Regions from separate parts of the Homo sapiens genome. Here region 1 is linked to region 2. Evidence: fine-mapped expression QTL. A gene starts in region 2. The other region holds a variant in brackets. All regions are shown on one strand. Distances are from middle to middle.

Evidence for each region. PIP is the estimated chance that this variant, and not a neighbour inherited with it, causes the effect.
Region 1: its variant is fine-mapped to the expression of HSPB1 in whole blood (TOPMed, PIP above 0.99).

The regions. Positions count from the first base shown.
Region 1 is chr7:76,270,737-76,273,638 of GRCh38, forward strand. The region is part of intron 11 of SRRM3 (serine/arginine repetitive matrix 3); the gene reads left to right. Among named protein-coding and RNA genes, the nearest start is that of HSPB1, 30 kb to the right of the region's middle. RefSeq lists enhancers at 2,281-2,390, 2,401-2,490. The variant A/T (reference allele first, on the strand shown) is at 1,672.
Region 2 is chr7:76,301,331-76,304,167 of GRCh38, forward strand. HSPB1 (heat shock protein family B (small) member 1) reads left to right here and starts at 1,343. Exons shown (of 3, transcript NM_001540.5): 1 at 1,343-1,746; 2 at 2,472-2,535; 3 at 2,654-2,837. The coding sequence starts at 1,383.

The DNA of each region.
Region 1 (2,902 bases), 31 kb before region 2:
CTGGGAGGCAGAGGTTGCAGTGAGCGGAGATCATACCACTGCACTCCAGCCTAGGTGACAGAGTGAGACTCCGTCTCGGAAAAAAAAAAAAAATAGCCAGGCGTGGTGGGCACCTGTAAAACCAGCTACTTGGGAGGCTGAGGCAGGAGGATCGCTTGAACCCAGGAGGCAGAGGTTGCAGTGAGCTGAGATTGTGCCATTGCACTCCAGCCTGGATGACAAGAGCGAGACTCTGTCTCAAAAAAAAAAAATCCATCTTGATCTCGAGACTGAGGCCAGTGATGTGGTTACTCCCAACAAACCCCTTTGTTGGCCCATCCCAGGTGATGGTTGAACCCCACAGGACTTTCTGGGTTCTGATGCTTACAGGAGAAACTGCAGCTCCGAGAGGTCAAGTGACTGGCTCAAGGTCACACAGCTATTTAGAGGTAGATCCAAAAGTAGACCCCAGGCAGGGCGCAGTGGCTCACACCTGTAATCCCAGCACTTTGGGAGGCTGAGGCAGGAGGATCACTTGAGGCCTGCAGTTCCAGACTGACTGGTCAACAGAACAAGACTGTATCTCTACAAAAAATATATATATATTTTTAATCAGCCAGGCATGGTGGCATGTGCCTATAGTCTCATCTACTGAGGGAGATGAGGGAGGAGAATCACTTGAGCTCAGGAGTCCAAGGCTGCAGTAAGCCATGATTGCACCACTGTACTCCAGCCTGGGCAACACTGCAAGACCCTGTCACTACAAAAATTTAAAAGAAAAAGCTGGGCATGGTGGAATACACCTGTAATCCCAGCTACTCAGGAGGCTGAGACAGGAGGATTGCTTGAACCAGAAGTTTGAGGCTGCAGTGAGCCATGATTGCGCCACTGCACTCCAGCTTGGGCAACAGAGCAAGACCCTGTCTCAAAACAAACAACAACAACAACAAAAAATAGACTCCAGCCCTCTGACTCTGACCTCTAGACTCCAGCTAAGCTGTGGAGAGGGTGGAAAATGGGAAGCACAGTCCACGAGCCCTGAGCAGAAGGAGGATTTGGGAGGTGGTTGCTGGTTGACTCAGCTCCTGCTTTCCCCCATCAGACCCATCCAGAAATCAGCTTCCTGCTCTCTCATGTCCCTAGGCCAAGGTCTGCCTACACTGAGAGACCTGGGTGCAGGTGGCCCCCACATTACAGAAACTCATATGATTGTTTCTTCTGTGACTCAGGGAACCCTAAACCCTCACAGTTCATACATGTGGGGAAATAAATATCGAGGCACAGAGAGGGAAGAGAGTCACTCAAGGTCACACAATGTAGGATGAAAGAGGAAGATACTGATCAGGAGACCTCCTGGGAGAAGCCCTCCTGTCCAGTCTTACCTGGTGCCTTCACTGGCCTCCCTCCAGCCCCCACCAGCACAACCTGGTGCTAGGCTCACCCTCCCAAGGCCCAAAAAGAGTATACAGAGTTTGCCGTCTTTTCTATTTTATTATTGCATTCCTGTCCCAGGGGCCACCTGCTCACCTTAGAAGTCTCTAGCGTTAGAAGTTTCAGGGGATGGGGCAGGCACAGTGACTTATGCCGGTAATGCCAGTACTTTGGAAGGGCGAGGCACGAAGATCGCTTGAGACCAGGAGTTTGAAATCAGCCTGGGCAACATAGCAAGACCCCTATCTCTACAAAAAAAAA[A/T]TTTTTTTTAATTAGCCAGATGTGATGGTGCATGCCTACAATCCCAGCCACTTGGAAGGCTGAGGTGGGAGGATCACTTGAGCCCAGGAGTTGGAGGCTACAGTGAGCTATCATCCTGTCTGTAGTCCCAGCTACTCGGGAGGCTGAGTCAGGAGAATCACTTGAACCCAGGAGGCAGAGGTTGCAGTAAGTTGAGATCGCACCACTGCACTCCAGCCTGGGTGACAGAGCGAGACTCCATCTCAAAAAAAAACCCCAAAAAACAAAAAACCCTACAGTGTCCGGGGCTGTCTGGAAGGTGACACCCTTAGGTGAGGGTGGCAGAGAAGGCTCAGGATCATGGCCTTGGGGCTCTCTCTGGCTTCTCCCTGTGGTCCAAATTTTATCATGTAATGGGCAGCCTCGGGTGACCCCCAAGAAGAGGTGCCAAGGCACCCCCTGACCTGCCTTATACAGGAACAGAAAAAGGCAAAAGGGATGAATTTTGCTAAAAGGATGCCAAAGCCAGAGGGAAAGGAGTGGGACTGACCTGAGGCAGGGCCACTCCTCCAGATCGGCTCTGTGGTTGCCTTCCCTTTTAAATGCGCGTTTTCCCTTCACCCATCTGTCCACTCCGATTGGCCTTGTTTAAACAGTGCTTGTCTCCTCTTTCTGTCTGGGGGCACCTTTCTCTCTTCCTGCCTCTCTGTTTCTGTTTGCTTCTGTCATTGTTTCTGTCTTTCTGTTTCTCTTTCTCCTTCTCTTCCCATTTCTATCTCTGCCTGACTTTGTCTGTTCGTCTGTCTCTCTGTCTGCCTCCTGTCTCTCTCTCTTCCTTTCCATCCCTCTCCCCCGGCATGGGCCTCTCTCCCATGCTGCCAGCCCCTCTGTAGCCCACCCTGTGGTTCTCTTCCATCAGCTGCTTCCTGCATGCTCTATGGAGGTTTTCTGTTGTTTGAACAATAAAGAAAGCTTGGCTAGTGGAACCCATTGTTTAAAAAGGAGAAAAAAAAAAGAGCAAACAGAAATGGCCGTGCAAGAGCCCCCTCCCATCCCTGGGATGAGACAAAAGCCACATTGGCCACCCATCTACTGGCTCAGAGGGGGAGCACAGTTTAGGGTCACTGTCTTTCCCCCATTCTGCATTCCCAATGCGGAGACCTTCTTTTCTTTTTTATTATTGCATTCCTGTCCCTGAGCACTGAGAAGGTAGGTATCCCAGCTCCGCTGTGCGCTCTCGCTCCCATCTCCA
Region 2 (2,837 bases):
ATCTTTATGCAATGCATGACTGTTACCATCATTATCATCTCTATTTTCCAGATGGGGAAACTGAGGCACAAAGAATCTAACTTGCACAAGTTCATCTGCTTAGTGATGGAACAAAGATGTGAATTCAGGCAGTCTGGCTTCAAAGTCCACACGCCTAACAACCACACCAGATTACTAGATTGCTTTTTTCTTTTTTCTTTTTTTTTTTTTGAGATGGAGTCTCACTCTGTCACCCAGGCTGGAGTACAGTGGTGAGATCTCGGCTCACTGCAACCTCTGCCTTCTGGGTTCAAGCAATTCTCCTGCCTCAGCCTCCCCAGCAGCTGCGATTACAGGCGCCCGCCACCACACCCAGCTAATTTTTGTATTTTTAGTAGAGATGGGGTTTCACCATGTTGGCCAGGCTGGTCTCAAACTCCTGACCTCTGGTGATCCTCCCACCTCGGTCTCCCAAAGTGCTGGGATTACAGGCGTGAGCCACCACGCCCAGCCCAGACTGCTTTATTTTTGTATTTGTATTTATTCATTTACTTATTTTGAGACAGGGTTTTGCTCTGTAGCCCAGGCTGAAGTGCAGTGGTGCAATCCAGCTCACCACAGCCTCTACTCACCGGGGTTCAAAGGATCCTCCTGCTTCAGCCTCTGGAGTAGCTGGGGCCACAGGCATGCACCACCATGCCCAGCTAATTTTTAAATATTTTTTGGTAGAAGTAGGGTCTCACTATGTTGCCCAGACTGGTCTCAAACTCCTAGCCTCAAGGGACCCTTCTGCCTTGGCCTCCCAAAGTGCTGAGATTACAGGCATGAGCCATGCACCCAGCCCCTTTTTAAAATTTTTTTGAGAGACAAGACTTTGATCTGTTGCCTAGGCTGGAGTGCAGTGGTGAGATCATAGCTCACTGCAGCCTCAACTCCTGGGCTCAAGCACCAGACTCCTTTTATCACATTCTATCTCACACGCGTGTGGTTCCAATCCTGCCTCTGCCACTTCTCAGTTGTATGCCCCAACCCAACCTGTCTGGCTCTGTCCTCCTTAACAGAAGGACGGCCCTGGCCACGGGCCACAGCCAGCAACGCTTAAGCACCAGGGCCGGCGAGTGCCCTGCCGTGGCACGGCTCCAGCGTCGCGCTCTCGAATTCATTTGCTTTCCTTAACGAGAGAAGGTTCCAGATGAGGGCTGAACCCTCTTCGCCCCGCCCACGGCCCCTGAACGCTGGGGGAGGAGTGCATGGGGAGGGGCGGCCCTCAAACGGGTCATTGCCATTAATAGAGACCTCAAACACCGCCTGCTAAAAATACCCGACTGGAGGAGCATAAAAGCGCAGCCGAGCCCAGCGCCCCGCACTTTTCTGAGCAGACGTCCAGAGCAGAGTCAGCCAGCATGACCGAGCGCCGCGTCCCCTTCTCGCTCCTGCGGGGCCCCAGCTGGGACCCCTTCCGCGACTGGTACCCGCATAGCCGCCTCTTCGACCAGGCCTTCGGGCTGCCCCGGCTGCCGGAGGAGTGGTCGCAGTGGTTAGGCGGCAGCAGCTGGCCAGGCTACGTGCGCCCCCTGCCCCCCGCCGCCATCGAGAGCCCCGCAGTGGCCGCGCCCGCCTACAGCCGCGCGCTCAGCCGGCAACTCAGCAGCGGGGTCTCGGAGATCCGGCACACTGCGGACCGCTGGCGCGTGTCCCTGGATGTCAACCACTTCGCCCCGGACGAGCTGACGGTCAAGACCAAGGATGGCGTGGTGGAGATCACCGGTGAGCCCCCCTGCTCCTGCAGGGGAGAGGAGGAGGCTAGCAGGGCGGGCAGGGCCGGGGGCGTGCGGTTGAAACGGGGGTCCCGGGGGCCTGGGGAGTTAAACGTTGGCCCAGCACCGGGAAAAACAGGACTCCTGATTCCCTTGCTCAGGAATTGGGAGTGCGGGTCGCTTCTAAGGGCGCTTTCTGCTCTGTAATCCCAGCGCTTTGGGAGGCCGAGACGGGAGGATCGCTTGAGGCCAGGAGTTCAAGACTAGCCTGGGCAACATAGCGAGACGCGCCCCCCCGCCCCGACCCCGCGCCATTACAAAAAAAAAGCAAACAAAAATTTTTTTAAAGATCATCGATGAAGAGAGAAAATGCGCTTTTCTACAGAGTCCCCTTCCCACCCACAGCCCCATCCCCAGATAAGCGGGGAGTTCCCTGGCGCGGTGCCAGTTTCTAGCCGCTGAGTGGGCGTGTGCGCGGCTCCAAGTGCGCCTGCGTACTGCTCACTCCCCAGCTCCGCGCCCTGCTCCGTTCCTCCCAAAACTCTGAATCGAAGAACTTTCCGGAAGTTTCTGAGAGCCCAGACCGGCGGGCACGCCCCCATCCCCAACCCCCTCTGTTAATCCCTACCAGCCTGCAGTCCTGGCTGCTTCCAAGCAGGAGGTGGGGCCTCTGGCCTAGCGGGGCCGAAAGGCAGTCCCCTCCCCCGCAGTCTGATTTCCCTCTTCCCCCCAAAGGCAAGCACGAGGAGCGGCAGGACGAGCATGGCTACATCTCCCGGTGCTTCACGCGGAAATACACGTGAGTCCTGGCGCCAGGTCGGGGTGGGTGGGTGGCGTGGGGGTGGGGTCAGGGAAGAGGGCACAGGGACCCACCCGGTGTGTAATGTAACGCTTGCCTTTCCTCTCTGCACGTCCAGGCTGCCCCCCGGTGTGGACCCCACCCAAGTTTCCTCCTCCCTGTCCCCTGAGGGCACACTGACCGTGGAGGCCCCCATGCCCAAGCTAGCCACGCAGTCCAACGAGATCACCATCCCAGTCACCTTCGAGTCGCGGGCCCAGCTTGGGGGCCCAGAAGCTGCAAAATCCGATGAGACTGCCGCC